Linked DNA regions of Homo sapiens. The protein of the gene in region 2 interacts with the protein of the main gene of each other region in a pairwise test. Each region holds a gene or a part of one and is shown on either strand. Other genes may lie near its edges.

Evidence for each region. Proteins that work in one complex are often made in the same cells at the same time.
Region 1: the proteins of MEGF6 (region 2) and CACNA1A interact in a two-hybrid assay, tested with the Homo sapiens proteins (one study listed by BioGRID and IntAct).

What each region holds. Positions count from the first base shown.
Region 1 is NC_000019.10:13,209,480-13,217,263, forward strand, and holds part of CACNA1A (voltage-dependent P/Q-type calcium channel subunit alpha-1A), read right to left. Parts: intron 5,130-7,784; coding exon 5,022-5,129; intron 4,855-5,021; coding exon 4,754-4,854; intron 3,262-4,753; coding exon 3,152-3,261; intron 3,044-3,151; coding exon 2,905-3,043; intron 2,738-2,904; coding exon 2,624-2,737; intron 1,174-2,623; coding exon 1,138-1,173; intron 20-1,137; coding exon 1-19.
Region 2 is NC_000001.11:3,600,595-3,609,161, reverse strand, and holds part of MEGF6 (multiple epidermal growth factor-like domains protein 6 isoform 1 precursor), read left to right. Parts: intron 1-6,561; coding exon 6,562-6,696; intron 6,697-8,567.

The DNA.
Region 1 (7,784 bases), on a different chromosome or scaffold from region 2:
GGCTGGTGTCTGAGATGGTCTGGGGGAGGGGACAGGCCGGTGGGCTGGGGTCAGCAGCTAGCACCAAGTGGTCCCGGTCCTTCCTGCCCCATTGTGGCAGCCTGGTGGTGGCCTTCGGTGACTGCGGTGTGACCATCCTGGGGCAGGGGCCAGGGGATGCCATGGGGCCTTGGCTCCCCCTGATCAATCAGGGCTCTGGGTGTGGCCAGGCCTCTGAGGGTGGAGCCTGAGGATTCCTCTGTCCCTCAGAGACAGGACTGCTCCTTTTGAGCCCATCCTGGGTTCTGACCAGAAAGATCTGATCCTCACTCTCCAGTCCTGGGGGCCCAGCCACAGTTGGGCAGGCTCAGGCTGGCCAGAGGGAAGCCCTCTCCACATCCAGGGTGCAAACCTGGGAGCCCTGGACTGCCGCACTCATCCCTGCCCCAGCTTGCTCTCCTGGGAGGGTGAGAAGCCTCCGACTGTGGCTGGCTGACCTATGGGCTCAGGACCAGGTGCCCGGCATGGCAGCTTTGGGTCCTCCCGGCTAACGGGGCTGTGCTCGCTGCCCCCACAAGTCTGAGTCCTTCTGGTGAGGCCCAAGCTAGGGAGCTCTGGGTGGGGGTGGGGGATACCCAGGCACTGGAGGCTCTGGGGGCCCACTCTTTTCCCTGGTGCTTCATCCCTGGGTCAAGCCCTGACACACAGGTTTCTCTGCAGCAGGCAGAGGAGGGAAGGAGGGAGATGGGGCAGACGCCCGCCTCCCAGGGTCCAGCCCAGCTGAGCGCTGGTGGCCCTGCTCCAGGTAGGAGCTGCAGGACCAGGGGTTGGTGGTGGTGTCAGGAGAAGAAGCCCCCCAGAAAGAGGTGCAGAGTGGGCCAGGCTCTTGGAGAGCCAGTGTCCTCCGGCGTGGGGGGCCCTGAAGAAAAGGGGGTAGGGGTGAGGATGGGGATGGCCCCGCCCACCAGGGCTTATGGGTGAGGGGCACACACAGGACACCACACACAAGGATTGGGCTCCATGGAGGGGAGAGGGTGCGATTGCCAAAGAAAGGGTGGGGTCCGGGGACGGTGAGAGATGACGGGACTCCCTGGAGGGGGGGTGGGGAGGAAGAGGGGGCCGGAGCCCTGCTGGGCGCTGGGCAGGCGCGGTACATACACTGAGGTTATTCCCACGTGGCCGGCCCCTTCTCCTCTGTCACAGCCCCATGGGATGGTGCACACAGAAAAAACAGAAAGAAGAAAATAAATATAAAAGGCAAGAGGGAGAGTGAGGAGGTGGTGCATGGAGAAGAAGCCAAGGAGGGGAGTGGCACTGGCATCAAGAGAAATCGGAGGGAGAAGGCAGGGAGGAAAAGAAAAGTTAAAGTCCTGGCGGGTGGGTGTCCCAGGCCCCCGGGGCTGGGCGTCCTCTATTCCCATGGGTACAGAGGAGACAGACAGGAGATGCAGACAGACAAATGGCAGAGGCATGGGACCGAAAGACAGGACGGCGCAGCCTCGAGCCCCTGGCCCTGGGCTCTGCCTCATGCGATGCACACCCCAACCCCTGGCTCCGGCCGATGCTCAAAGCTTCCATGTGGTGGCCGTCAGCTGGGCTTGTCCCAACCCTCTCCTGGGGCCCAGCAGCTCGGTCCTGAGGGAGCAGCAGCATGCACGCTGGGTGCTCCCCAACCCACGTTCCCAGCAGCCAGAGGCCAGGCCCTCAGGTGACCCTGGTCCAGCCAGGCACAGCACAGCCTCCTGCCCCGTGCAGACGCCACACACGGCACACGGAAAGCTCGCCACAGCCACACATGCCACGCACCCGGGCCAGGCTCTCACAGCCATGCCCTGTTCTCCTCCAGAGGCGGGCTGCGTGCATGGGCCCCCGCTGTTCAGGCCGGGTGGGCAGCCAGCTATGCCTCTGGGCCCTCTGTCCCATGAGTCCAAGGCAACGGGATCACCTGCAGGTGGGCCTGGCAGCTGGGTGAAGCGGCCACACACAGACACACATCAAGCACACACCCCTGTGCCCCCCAATGACTCCCACAGAGACCAGACAGAAAATACGAGCCCAGCTGCCCCCAGACCCACCCCAGACTCTGCTACTGTATCCTAGGACCTGCCAAGTTCCCATATGCAGACACGTGTGCACGTACATGTGTGCATGTGTGAGTACATGTGCAGTGTGTATATGCCCACGTGCACACACGTGTGTGTATGCAAGCATCTGAGTAGGCGCACAGCTGCACATGTGTGTGCATGTATGTTGAGCATGTGTGTGTGTGTTTGTGTAGGGGTGATCTTCGTGGCAGGTCTCAGCTGGCCCTGTTGAACCCTGCTGCACCCACAAATCTTCCACAACCTCCCCTGTCTGCAGCCTCCAACCAGGGCAGCCAGAGACCATTTTGCAGTGGCCACTGCCCTCTGCCCCAGGGGGAGCACTTTCCTCTCTGTCCTCTGTGAGGGAGGAGGGTCTGCAGGTGCTCCAGGTGTGACCAGGTGGTGGGTGGGGCCTGCAGACTGCTTCAGAGACTGAAGGAGTCCCTACCCAGGCCTGAGTCCGGCAGGGAGGGGATGCACTGGGCTGCTTGTGGGGGGGCCTGGCCCTACCCAGTGCAGAGTGAGGGGTCCAGCCCCAGGGCAGTGGTGAAAGCCCTCACCTGGTTCTCTGCAGGGAGGCGGGGCATGGAGGCAGCCCGGCCCTGGCCTTCCATGGGGAGGTAGTGCTCGCTGTCGGAGTAGCCATCTCTGCCCATCTCTCGCATCTCCACGGACTGCGGAGCAGATGGCAAAGCCAGATGAGCTCTGGGGCCTGACCTCCAGATCCCTGGTGTCTGCAGAGGGAGGGAGCTGCAGGTGTGTGTGTGTGGGGGGCCCAGATCCCTTCCACCTGAACCACCCGGGCCCTGGGAGCCATTGGGGAGTTGGGGGACAGAGGCACCTGAGAGTTAGGCTGGCTGTTGGGCATGTCGGTAGGGGGGCCTTGTTCCGGACTCCATGTGCCCGTCTTCTGGAACATCTCCTGGGCACGCTGGGTCACCCAGGACGGGCTCTCCTTGAGGCCGCTTTCGTGAGCCATCCTGCATGGGGGACAGAGGCCGGGGTAGCAGTGGGCGCTTGGGCAGCTTCCAGAACGTGGGGACCACGGCACCCCCACACTCCACCTCCCTGGCAGGGGTGACACTCACAGGGCTCCTCCTGGGTCCAGCTGGGTGGAGGGGAGGGCGTTCTGGCCAGGTCCCCCTTCCTGCGTTGGGGACGGGGGCTCCATGCGCTGGAACATGAGGGGTGTCCGGTCCTGGGGAATGGGGCAGAGAGCAGTGTGTGGACAAGGGTGGGGTGGTGGGACGGTGGTACCCAGAAGGCATTGCGACATCCCCAGTATACACACACACACACACACACACTCTCTCAGGTCTCATCCATCTAGACCCTTCCAATTCCACGCAGAACTGGACCACTTCTCACTCCTCCACCCAAGTCATAGCCCCAGCCTGGTCCCACGTCCTCATCTCTCACTGCAGGCACCTTCTCCCAGGTCTCCCGCTCCTACCTTCAACCCCACTGTTCCACAAGAGCCACCAGAGGGCGCCCATGAGCACTTGAGTCAGGTCCTATCCCTCCTTTGCTTAGAACCCTCCATGGCTCCCACTTGCTTGGGGAAAAAGCCAGAGTCCTTCCTGCAGCTCCCATGGCCCTGAAGGATCTGCCCTGTCACCTCCTTGCCCTTGTCTCCTCCCTGCTCTTTTCCACCACACTGGCCTCTTTGCTGTTACCCAAACAACCCAGGCACGGTCCAGCCTCAGAGCCTTTGCACTGGCTGTTTCCTCTGCCTGGAACACCCTTCCAGGTATTGCTTAGCTCACTCCCTCTCCCCTTTTCCTTCAAGCCTTTGCTCACATGTCACTTTCTCAGGGAGGCTCCCCAACTACCCATTTCCCACCGCATCCCCTCCTCCCCTGGATACTCCTATCTTCTGGATTCTTCTCCACTTTCCCCCACGACACTTTCTTTCTCTTTGCTGGATGTTGCACGATTCAGTCATTTGCTACCATTGGCATTTCCCCACTTGGAATGTCTGCTCCCTGAGGGCAGGGATTCTGGCCTATTTTCCCCATGGGTGCATCCCCGAGGACTGAGAACAGCGCCCTGCACACAGTAATACTCAATAAGTGTTGGTGGAGCAGCTGAATGAAGAATGAATCCACATGATGTGTCCTTGGCAAGAACTTTTTTTTTTTTTTTTTTTTTTTTTTTTGAGATAGAGTCCTGCTCTTATCACCCGGGCTGGAGTGCAGTGGCTTGATCTTGGCTTGCTGCAACCTCCACCTCCCAGGTTCAAGTGATTCTCCTGCCTCAGCCTCCCAAGTAGCTGGGACCACAGGTGCATGGCGCCACATGCAGCTAATTTTATTTTTTTTTTGTAGAGATATGGGTCTTTCTATGTTGCCCAGACTGGTCTCCCACTCCTGGCCTCAAGTGATCCTCCCATCTTGGCCTCCTAAATAGCTGGGACTACAGGTGTGCACCACCATGCCTGGCTAATGTTTTATTTTGTAGAGATGGAGTCTCACTGTGTTGCCCAGGGTGGTCTCATCCTGGTCTCAAACGATCCCTCTGCCCTGGCCTCTCAAAGCACTGAGATTGCAGGTGTGAGCTGCTGTGCACAGCCCCTACTTTTCAGGGACCTGCCCTGGGGCTCAGCCACCCTCATATTCCAGTTGGTTCCCGTGGTGACATGCAAGCCACTGTCCCCAGCCCAGATGTCCCCAGAGCGGCGAACAGCGCACCTGCTCCTCGCGCATGGCCTGCAGCTTCTTGGCCTTGCTCTGCCGGTAGTACTCCATGATCATCATGGCTGCGTAGATCTTCCCCACGGTGAGGTCCGTGGCTGGGGGCACACACACGGTGAGCTCACCAAGGGCAGGCCTCTTTGGGGCCCTTGTCCTGGGTCCCTGTGTATACCAGCCCAGGCCAACACTCTCCCCAGGCCTCCCCTTTCCCTCCCCCTCCATCTGTCCTGGTGGATTGGATCCCAGGGCTGGGCTCAGCTCTTACACTTGTGAGGTGTGACCAGCAGGTCTAGCGTCTTCTGGGACAGATTGGGCCAAATCGCCATCATCTCCTTCCGCAGCTCAGCGTCCATCTGCTGTTTGTCGGCTCCTCCTGCAATGGGGGTGTAGACAGACCCTGACTGCCTGCCTGGGTGTCAGCTGGACTCTGGGTCAGCTGCAAAGCCATAGGCTCCCGAGAACGAGACCCCAATCTTTCTGGTCCCCATGGGGTCTCCAGTTCCCCAACGGCCTGGCCCAGAGGAGGCCCTGGGCAGTGCTGCTGGAATGACCTTGTGGGCTCTGGTTTTCGGTGGGGCCAGGACCATGGAGCAGCTGTGCAGGAGACAGCCCGGCATGGAGAACAGCTGGGCGACCTGGGTCCCAATCTTGTCTCCCAGTTATCGGCTGCATGACTTAGGTTACTCTACCACTTAGTAACTCAGTTTCTCCATCTGTGAAATGGAGATGATAGCAAGAGTACTTGCCTCACCTGGTTGTTGTGTGTGTGTGTGTGTGTTTTTTTTTTTTTTTTAGACAGAGTCTTGCTCTGTTGCCCAGGCTGGAGTGCAGTGGCACGAGCTTGGCTCACTGCAACCTCCGACTCCTGGGTTCAAGCAATTCTCCTGTCTCAGCTTCCCGAGTAGCTGGGATTACAGACATGCACCACCATGCCTGGCTAATTTTTTGTATTTTTAGTAGAGACGGAGTTTCACCATGTTGGTCAAGCTGGTCTCGAACTCCTAACCTCGGGTGATCCACACGCCTCGGCCTCCCAAAGTGCTGGGATTACAGGCGTAAGCCACCGCGCCTGGCTGGTTGTTTTTTTTTTGTTTTTTTTTTGAGATGGAGTTTCACTCTTGTTGCCCAGGCTGGAGTGCAATGGTGCAATCTCAGCTCACTGCAACCTCTGCCTCCTGGGTTCAAGCGATTCTCCTGCCTCAGCCTCCCGAGTAGCTGGGATTACAGGTGTGCACCACCACGCCCAACTAATTTTGTATTTTTAGTAGAGACGGGGTTTCACCATGTTGGCCAGGCTGGTCTCAAACTCCTGACCTCAGGTGATCCACCCTCCTCAGCCTCCCAAAGTGCTGGCGATTACATGCGTGAGCCACCGCGTCTGGCCTGTTTTTTTTTTTTTTTTGACAGAGTCTCTCTCTGTTCCCAGGCTGAAGTGCAGTCATGTGATCTCGACTCACTGTTACCTCCGCCTCCCAGGTTCAAGAGATTCTCCCGCTTCAGCTTCCTGAGTAGCTGGGACTACAGGCACGCACCACCATGCCTGGCTATCACCTGGTTGTTTGATGATCAAAGTAACGTGCGTGCAGCCTTGGGACAGTGTCTGCCATAGGATTATTACTGCAGTGACCCATCTGTTCAAGGCTGGGACGCCCTGGAGCATCCCCAACAGAGGAAGTTTTGGTTTTGGTTTTATTTTGATTTTTGAGACAGGGTTTTGCTCTGTCGCCCAGGCTAGAGTGCCGTGGCACAAACATAGCTCACTGCAGTCTCGACCTCCTGGGCTCAAGATCCTCCCACCTCAGCCTCCCAAAGTGCTGGAATTACAGATGAAAGCCACTGTGCGTGGCTCAGAGGAGGTCTTTTCCCCTTTCCCAAGTCTCCACTGCCACGGACATGCCCTTGGCCTGCAGCCAGTCCCTCGTCCCTCACCCCAGTCATGGGGTGAGTCATTAAAGCTCTCTGACGGTGTTTCCTGGCCCTCCTACCTGAGTACATGGGGGGGTTCCTCCTGTGGTTGGCAGGGCCATGTGATGAGTCCTTGCTAATGGGGTGTGCACCATGTAATGTGCCACTTTGGGGCCAGAGCATTTATTATTATTTTTATTATTGTTATTATTTTTGAGATGGAGTCTCGCTCTGTCACTCAGGCTGGAGTGCAATGGCATGATCTCGGCTCACTGCAACCTCCACCTTCAGAGTTCAAGCGATTCTCCTACCTCAGCCTCCTGAGTAGCTGGGATTACAGACATCTGCCTGGCTATTTTTATATTTTTGTAGAGACAGGGTTTCACCATGTTGGCCAGGCTGGTCTCGAACTCCTGACCTCAGGTGATCTGCCTGCCTCGGCCTCCCAAAGTGCTGGGATTACAGGCATGAGCCACTGTGCCTGGCCTATTATTTTTTTTAAAAATTTATCTATCTATCTATCTATCTATCTATCTATCTATCTATCTATCTATCTATCATCTATCTATCGATCGACAGGGACTTACTCTGTTGCCCAGGCTGTGGCACAATCTTTGTTCACCGAAGCCTTGAGCTCCTGGGCTCAAGCAATCCACATTCTGACAGTCAGAATGTCACTGTGGGCTGCTATTTGGATATGCTAACTGGGTTTACGTTTAATATGCTAATTGGTTCAGGCAGGTAGTTGGCTCTGCCCTCAATGCCTGGGGTGGGGGGCTTGAAAGAGGATAGGGTCCAGCCTGGTCAACATGGTGAAACCAGTCTCTAGTAAAAATGCAAAAATTAGCTGGGCGTGGTGGCGTGCGCCTGTAATCCCAACTACTCGGGAGGCTGAGGCATGAGAATCGCTTGAACCTGGGAGGTGGAGGCTGCAGTGGTGAGTTGAGACTGCGCCACTGCACTCCAGCCTGGGCGACAGAACGAGACTCCGTCTCAAAACAATACAAAACAAACAAAACCAAAACCAAAATAGAGATTCTTCTGGGCAGAGAGAACAGAGGGGTGGGTGGGAGAGAGAAACAGATGGACAGGGAAGAGAGAGAGAGAGACAGAGACAGAGAGA
Region 2 (8,567 bases):
CCCAGAGAGTGCTCAGTCCCTGCTGATCCTGTCCTCCCCATTACCCTTTCCTCCTGGGAATCTGATGAGCAGGCAGGGCTTGGCACGGGGCAGCGGCACCCCCGCTGGCTGAGTGTTCCTGAACCACTGGCTGCTGAGTTGAAGCGTTACTGCCAACCTCCTGTTAATGCTAGAAGCCGGGGCCTCTAGGAGACGCTGTCGGAGGCAGCGAGGGGTGTGCCCTCCAACTCGCAGATCCAGGTGCTTTGCCCCATCCCTGGAGCGGGCAGAACTGATCTATCTGCTGATTCAGGTCACTCCAAAGTGAATTTCCACTATGAGGAAGGATGGCTGGCCTCCTTCCTGGGGCCTCATGCAGGAGGCCTAGGCTGCTGGCTGGGCATCTGGGAACGGGGTCTGGGAGACGGGGGCCGATTGCCCACCTGCTAAGGCATGGACCCGCAGGGCTCGGACCAGCCATGGTTGGAAGCTCCACATTTTGGAGACCCTGAGAGGTGCTGCTGGGCTACAGAGAGGAGTGTCTGCTTCGCGGGGCTCAGGTTCTCTCTGATGGAGTCCCCTCTGGGCAGCTGTGCTACAAAAATGGCCAGTGTTCTGGAATCAGCTAATGATATGATGCCTTCCCTCCAGGGCGGGTCGGGCCCTGCAAGCTCAAGTCCAATCTTGCAAGTAGCTCTTTGGATCCACTGGGGCCATGGGCTCCAAGGGCCCCATTCGTGAGCCTGAGGCCTGCAGGTTGTCAGCAGGCCTGCTCCCCGACCCCAGGGTGTAGAAGGCAGCTGTTCTCAGCCTCCCCTTAGGGCCATGAGTTTCACAGCACGTGACCTGGAGGGGAAGGAGCTCTCACTTCTGTGAGCTGCTGCCTTTGGGGCTTTGAGTGACATTGTTCATTGTCTCCTTGTCTACAGGAAGGTACCTGAGAGTCCGAGGGGCCCCAGGGCAGGAGCTGGGCTCCCCCAACCCCAGGGCCTTGAGATTCCCCGCATGCTGGCTGCATGGGGCCCTGGGAAGCATAAGCAGAGGAGAACCATGGGGGTAAAAACGAGCCTTTAAAAATAAGCGCGAGGCCGTTGGCCTGAGCGAGCCCCGCCCTCCAGGGCCGCTGTCCTGAGCGAGCCCCCCCAACTCCCCTCACCCCCGCCGCCCACAGGGGTTTGTTCAGGGGCTGCATTCAGCCAGGCTGGGGAGCTGAGCCAGGCTGGCTGCCTGCTTTCTGGATCCCCGCCCTCCCCAACCTGGTGATGCCGTCGCTGGGCCCAGACTGTCGCTGCCTGCCCTGGAGGGACCCCGCAGCATGCCCGCCCATCTCTTGCCCGTGGAGCCCCGGCTCTGCTCGGGAGCAGATGGCCCACCAGCTGGGAGCATTCCGCCTCCGACTGCACCAGGTCCACTTTGTAGTTTGGGAATTCCTGTTCCACGCCCCCAGATGGGAGGCGGGATCCAGCCGCAAGGAACAGAAAGGCCTGGGACTCTGGTCCTGTCAAAGGTCACCAGGTGCTTTATTGGGTTCTCCTCAGACCCATGTGCAGCAGTGGGAGGTTTCTTTTTGTCCATTCTTCTGCCTGCCCTTCCCCTGCCACCTTCTCCATCCTCACAGGTGGAAAGGCCGCCGGGGCCGTGCGGGTGCGGTGCTGTGGCCGTGTGTGCAGTGCTGAAGTCCCCAGAGGAGACAGTCGTTCCCACACTCACCCCCTCCTTGAAGGCTGGCTTGATTGATGATCAATCAATTTTGTTGGGGGTCACTGCAAGAGCCATCCAGGAGCTGCTTTCAGGGACCACAGCCTGGCTGGGCAGGGCAAGGGCCCTCCGTCCTTGGGGAGAGCCGTGAAGGGGAGGAGTTATTGGGGAGACATAGGGCGCACCAGGCGGGCAGGGGCCGGGAGAGTGACGGGTGTGATGTGCGGGAAGGGCTGCTGGGTGGTCCAGGGTGGGGTTGGCAAGGGGTCTCGGTGAGTCCTTCAGCATTGTCGTCTTGCTGGTTAGTGGCAGCTGAGATTGCTGAGGTTTGAGGAGGGCCGGGAAGGACAAGAAGGCCCTTCTGAGGGGAGCACCCAACCCCTCAGTACCCCTAACCCCGGCCGTGTCCCTGATGTCTCCAAGCCCCGGAGGCCCAAGCTGTCATCACGCCTGCTTTCCAGATGCTGAATTGAGGGCTCAGAGATGGTCAGTGACTCCAGGCTGCACAGCAGGCCCCAGGCCTGGGGTGTCTGTTGAAAACCCAAGCTCACAGCTCTGCCCTCTCTGTGTCATCTCCATCCTGAGATGGTGACAGAGTCCCTTCACAGTGGCTGCCCTCAGCACAGGGGCCATCACAGAGTCAGGGGCTGGACCCTGTAGCCCAGAAGCTCAGGGATCATTGGCCTATTCCCCCCGGCTTCCGTTTTTTTATGGCAAGGAGTTCAAGGTCACCTGTGCCCAGGGCTCGCCGTGGGTAAGTGCGTTGCAAGGCACAGGGACGGCAAAAGCGTTCAATGCCTGTAGCAGTTCCTATGGCCCACTTTCCAGGTACAAGTGACACTTTTTCCGGAATAAACAGTCCCAGTATCTGCAGTAACACTAGCTCACACCTCCTGAGGGCTGTCGGGAGCCCTTTTCTGTGCAGGCTCATCTAACCCTCATGCAAACCTGGCAAGGTCACTGCTGTGAGTCCTCATTTTACAGGTGAGGAAACTGAGGCAGAGGTTCAGTAACCTGCGCGTCTTAAAGATGGGGCGTGGGGAGCTGAGATTCAAACCCAGGCTGCTTGGCGGTGAGACCTTGCTTCAAACCGCTAGGCCTGGGGTTACAAGCTTGAGTGTGCTCCAGCATCCCCTGGTGGGCTTGGGCAAACACACGCAATCCTTCCCACCCCGAGGAATGCTGGGCCCCACCCCCAGAGTCCTGGATTCAGTGGTCCAGGGTGGGGCCCAGGAGTGTGCATTTCTGCAGGTTCCCAGGAGAGGCTGCTGGTCCTGGCCGGGGGACCCCACTTTGAGAACCACTGCATGACGCTTTGCAGCCCTAGAGCCCGATGGTTGGTGGGGTGGGTGCGTTCATCACGAGTTCTGCCCTCCAAGATGTGCTAGTTCTTTAAAACACCTGTCTCTGATCCCAAATTTGACACTGTTACATGAAAGTGTGAATTTTTGAAGTTTCAGGGGGACAGAGTATCTGTCAGTAGGAGGAGGACAGGGTGGCACTGTCCCGGGAGGGGTTGGGGAGGGATCTTCATGAAGGGGCGCAGGAAGCACGGGGGTGCCACCGTGGAGCCAAGGCCATCCCTTGGGTGGGGGCCGGGTCCTGGAACCTGGAGAGAGTGGGCACGGCCTCCGCCCCTGACAGGAGGGCCACACCCCAGTGCCTCTTCCACATCTCTTCCTGGTCCTCCCATTGACTAAACCCACCTGGCAGCCAGAAGGCAAAGTGTGTAAGTGAGTGTGTGTGCCTGTGTGTGTATCTGTGAGTGTGTGTGAATGGGAGTTTGAGAGTGCATATGTGTGTGCGAGTGTGTGTGAGTTTGTGAGCTTGCATGCGTGAGAGTACAGAAGTGTGCGTGTGCATGAGTATGTATGTGATTGTGTGTGTGTCATTGTATGAGTGTATGTGTGTGTATGTGAGTGTATGAGTGTATGAGAATATGTGTGATTGTGTGTGAGTGTGAATGTGTATGTGTGTGATTGTGTGTGTATGTGTGTAATTGTGTATATGTGTGTATAGGTAAGCATATGTGTGTATGAGGGTGTGTGATTTTGAGTGTGAAAGTGATTGTGAGTTGTGTGTATGTAATTGTGGGTATGGTAGTGAGTGTGATTGAGTGTGTGTGAACGTGCGTGAGTGTATGAGCATGTTGAGTGTGTAAGCATGCATATGAATGTGAATGTGTGTGATTGCGTTTGTGTGATTGTGTGGGTGTGAGAGTATGTGTGAGTGCCTTCTGTTAGTGTGATTGTGTTCGAGTCCATGTAAAGTGTGTGTGACTGTGTGTGTGGGTGTGTGTGACTGAGTATGAGTAAGGGTGTATGTGACTGTGAGTGTGTGACTGTGTGTGGGTGTGTGTATGAGTGGTTGTGAATGTGTGTGATTGAGTGTGAGTTTGTGTGTGACTGAGAGTGTGAGTGTGAGGGTGTGTGTTTGTGTGTGTGCAGGTGCTGGGAGGATGTGATCCACAGAGGTCAGCCTTGGGTCACAGCAGGGTGGGGTGGGGCAGTGGCCCTGGGGGCTGTGAGACCATCCCCCATGGGTGCTGTAGTCTGGGGGTCAGGAATGAGGTCAGGACCCAGCCCCAGGGAGGCTGAGGAGGGCTCTCCCTGGAGACGTGACCCTCTGTCCCTGATCCAACCTCTGGTCCTGCCCCCTCCCCTATTCTCACTCTGGGATCCGTGGCCCTTAGGACACAGAGGCCCAACAGTGCTGGGGGAAGGTGGGAGAGACCTGGCCCTTAGTCATCACCATTAGCTGGTGATCTTGAGCAGATCAGGGGGTCACTGTCACTTCCTCCCTGGGAGGGGAGAGATTCGATGATGTAATGTCAGGAAAGGACCTGGTGCTGGGCACGGAGGAGGCACTCCTGAACGAGTCACCTCTTCCCCAGCTCCCAGGTAGAAATAGTCGGGGATTTTGGAAGTCTCGCTCTCCACCCAGGTGAGAGTTGTCTTCCTGGTGCAGGAAGAGGCAATGGCAGAGCCTTTCCACCTGCCCTGGGTTCGTGCAGCTGATCCCGCCTAGCTGGAGGGTCCCCATTGCTGCGGAGGCTTCTCGGCTGCAGCTGCCGGTCTGTCTGGGAGTTGGTGGGGAACCTGGACCCTGCTTATGGCCAGGAGGAGCTCTGCCCTGCCTCGTGCCCTGCCTTGTGCCCCACCCTGCAGTCACCTGGGCCTGGACTCCAGGAATCAACGCTACCTCGGGTGGGCAAGCCTCAGCCCTGGGATGGGACGTTTGGGAAACTGCGGGAGAGTGTGGGCAGAACCTCTCGGCAGGAGGTCATGGGCAGGACATGTCCAGCAGCAGCCCCAGCCCCTCTCGGACTTGACTGGAGACCTGGAGCTGGACTCTGGTCCCAGCCTTCGTCTGCCCCTTCGTGGGTGGGCAGCTGGAGGCCAGGGTCCCTCCTCTGGGTGCCACAGCAGCCTGGTGGAGCCCCTGCTGTCCCGGCTGGTGAGGCCCTGCCATTTGCCCCTCTCAGTTTTTGCCATCGCTATGTTGGGTCTGTGCTTTCTGGATTTGTTCAGCACAAGGGGGTGGGCTGAAGTCAGAGGGGACACAGGGCTTCCCACACAGCACGAGCCCCAGGAAAGAGGAAAAATAAGTCCTCCATTGCAAGAGCCTCCATCTGGGGGCGGCTGGCCTGGGGCCAGGGTGGCTGGACGGGGCGGGCAGTCTCTGAGTGCTGAGCCAGGGTCCGGCCCACGGGGCGGCGGCTGGTTAGGAGCTCCTGGCAAGGCCTGGGCGGAGGGCGGTACCGAGCCTGGACAATATTCCCGGTGGGGTGGGGACCTCTGATGAGGAGGCTGGGGGAACCCATGCCACCTGCTTGCCCCCAGGAGGTGGGAGGGGCTCTGGTGGGATCTGCCAGGCTTGCTGCACCTGAGGCTGGAGGGGAGACACCGGCCCGCACCAGGTATGCCTGGCCCTGGTTCTGGGGAGCAAGTCCAGAGCTGGGAGAGCAGGACAAGCCTCTTCTTTCCTCTGAGGCCCCCCAGACGTCACCTGACGTAGTGGGACACGAGCACTGGAGCCTTGTCCTCTCCCCCCGAATTTGCCTCTGTGGAGGGAGCCCGCCTCACCCCTCGGTCAGGGCAGGCCAGGGGCGAGCCCCTGCTCTGGGGGTGCTGGCCCGTGTGGCTGTCTTTGGAGGGTCCCTCCCTCTGACCCTTCCCCCCGCAGGGCCTGAGTCCTTTCTCCACCTGCTCCGAGCCCGGTGGGGTCTGGATGGCTGGCTTAAGGTGCCTGTCCCTGGCATGCCCCCTCCCCTGGTTTATGCAGCCTCTGGGCTGGAGAGGCCTTGGAGGGACCTGAAGGAGTTTGGCAGGGATGGGGCTGGGGTTTTCACCTCCTCCTCCAAGAGCAAACACTCACCAGTGTGGGTCATAGGATGCCGGGGAGCCGCTGACTTCACAGGGGATGGGCCCGGGTTCACCCCAGCCATGTGCCCCAGCAACATCAGGCCTGGGGACATCTCTGAAGCGAGGTGGGGAGGGCTGGGGTGGAGAGGACAGAATGGGCCCGCGCTTGGTCCTGGATTCTGGACGAGGTGTGACTGTGCCTTGAGGCCACAGTTCCTGTCTGTTGAGGCAGCGTCGTTGGTGGCTGTGTTGCAAGGTCTTAGGGCACTAGGATCCACGCTGTGGGCCATGCGTGGGGGATGTTGCGGTCATCTTGCCTTTTCCCCTGAGCTCCTGTGCCCTCAAGCCTGGGTCCCACGGCTGGCCTGGGGCACTGGCATGGGCACTGTGCCGTGGAGGCCTGGCCACGGGTCTGGACCTCACTCCAGATGAGCTGACACCCAAGGCTGGGGGTGCAGGAGGGGTGGGTGTTGCCGGCTGGGGGTGGCCGAGGCGCTGACTCTCCGTGTCTCTGTTCCAGGCCCCACGTGTGTGCTGAGCAGGAGCTGACCCTGGTGGGCCGCCGCCAGCCGTGCGTGCAGGCCTTAAGCCACACGGTGCCGGTGTGGAAGGCCGGCTGTGGGTGGCAGGCGTGGTGCGTGGGTCATGAGCGGAGGTAAGTGCAGGGGCCCGTGTTGGGGGAGGGGCTCCATTCACACAAAGGGCGGCACTGACCACCCGGGAGCTGGGCAGCTGAGGCCAGGACCCCGTCCTGGTCTCAGGGCCACACGCAACCCCTGCCTGAAGCCCTCATCTGAGCATGAGGCCTCTCCCACCCTCAGGGTGGGTCTGCCATGGGGCTACTCACATGCTGTAGCCCTCTCCTGTTTAGCCGAGCACCTGAGTCCTTTGTGAGGGGTGTGTGGAGGAGGAGGGGCCCAGCCCGGGAGGATGCTGGCCACGCAGGAAGGGGAGAGTGGTCTCAGCCTGCCAGGGGCCCGGTGGGAGGCTGCTGCTTCTTGGCCCTAGGGCCTTGTTCCCCAACACACGTGAAACTTTTTACTGCGCAAGATTTTATTTCAACACCGAACTTGAGTGCCTGTGCACACCTCTCCCCCTTTTATAGACTCAGGCTCTGCAGAGCCAGCCCTGCCGCAAAGCGGGTTGTGCCGGGAGCTGGCAGCCCCCGTGTCAGGTGGAGAGTTTCCGTGTGTCTGTGGGAGGGAAGGCAGGAACGCATTCTCAGAGAAGATCGTGGCTAGCTTCTCAGCCTGGGATCTGCGGAGGAGCCGAGGCCCTGCTCTGCGCTGCTCCCTTGGGCATGGGGTCCACGCGGGACACCTGCACCTGCTGTACCTGCTCCAGGGGGCTCTGGCAGCTTTCTGGTCAATGTGTGTTTGCTGCGCAATTCAGATGTGTTCAGAGTAGAGGAGAAAAAAACCGTTAAGCAATAATGGTGGTTCTCACTCAGGGGCAGTTCTGTCTTCCTACCCCGGGACAGTGGAGATGTGGAGTCAGGTTTGGTGACAGGTGAGCTGGGCAGGCTGAGGGGGCCAGGGATGCTGCTGAGCATCTCAGCACACAGGACGACCCCCCGAACAGACGACCCGGCCCAGTACCAGGAGGGCTGAGGTTCAGGGATCCTGAGCCCCCAAAACAAGAGATCTCAGGAGGGCTGAGGTTCAGGGACCCTGAGCAAAAAGAAGAAATCTCCTCTCATTGTTTTCCCCAAAATAGCAGCTTGCAGTCTGTCCTGACTGTCACCCATGCGTGGATGCGGGCCTGCCCTGTGGATGTCATGCGTGCATGGATGCAGGTGGATTTCCCTGCGGGAATTTGTTTGCATCAGCCAGGTCTCCCGCCAACAGCTCGTGGTGGAAGAGCTCTGTTTCTAGAAGCAGCCAGAAGCCATCTGAGCCCAGGGCTGGAGAGAGTGCTGGTGGCCGGGCTGAGGAAGTCCCCTCGCTATGGGGGCATGATTTCTCCATTGTGGTCTCTAGGCTAGCCTGAAGGCAGGGTGGGAGCAGCATTGCCGATGTGCCGGGGTCCTCAGCCTCCTGGCAGGGCACTGGGGGCAGCCGTGGACAAAGTCCCCCTGCTTGGAGGGGGGGGCACTGGCAGGGGATCCCCTCCCGGCATTACCCAATGCAGGGTGTCCGGGCCTCTTCACCAACCCTCCCTCCCGAAAGGTGGCCATTCTGCCTCAAGGTCCTGGGCTTGTCATGGGGGAGGGGCCGAGGTCCACCTCCGAGGACCCTGGGCTGTTCTCACCTGGCCCCCGCTCCTGGGGGAACCAGAGGCTTCTTACCACCCTGGTGCCGGGGGGATGGGCGTCCTGTGTGCTCTACTGGAACCAGCCCCAAGTGAGGTGGTGACATGTGGCCTGGGCCCCTGTCCCTTTGGGATGCTTCTGGGGCTGTTCGTGGGCACAGGGTGCTCCCAAATCCCACGTTTCCAATTTGTGTCCCCTCCCAAGCTGCTGGAGGCTGAATCCAGCTGTGCAGCCTCGGGGGAGTCTCCTCAGATGCCAGGTCCAGATATCACTCC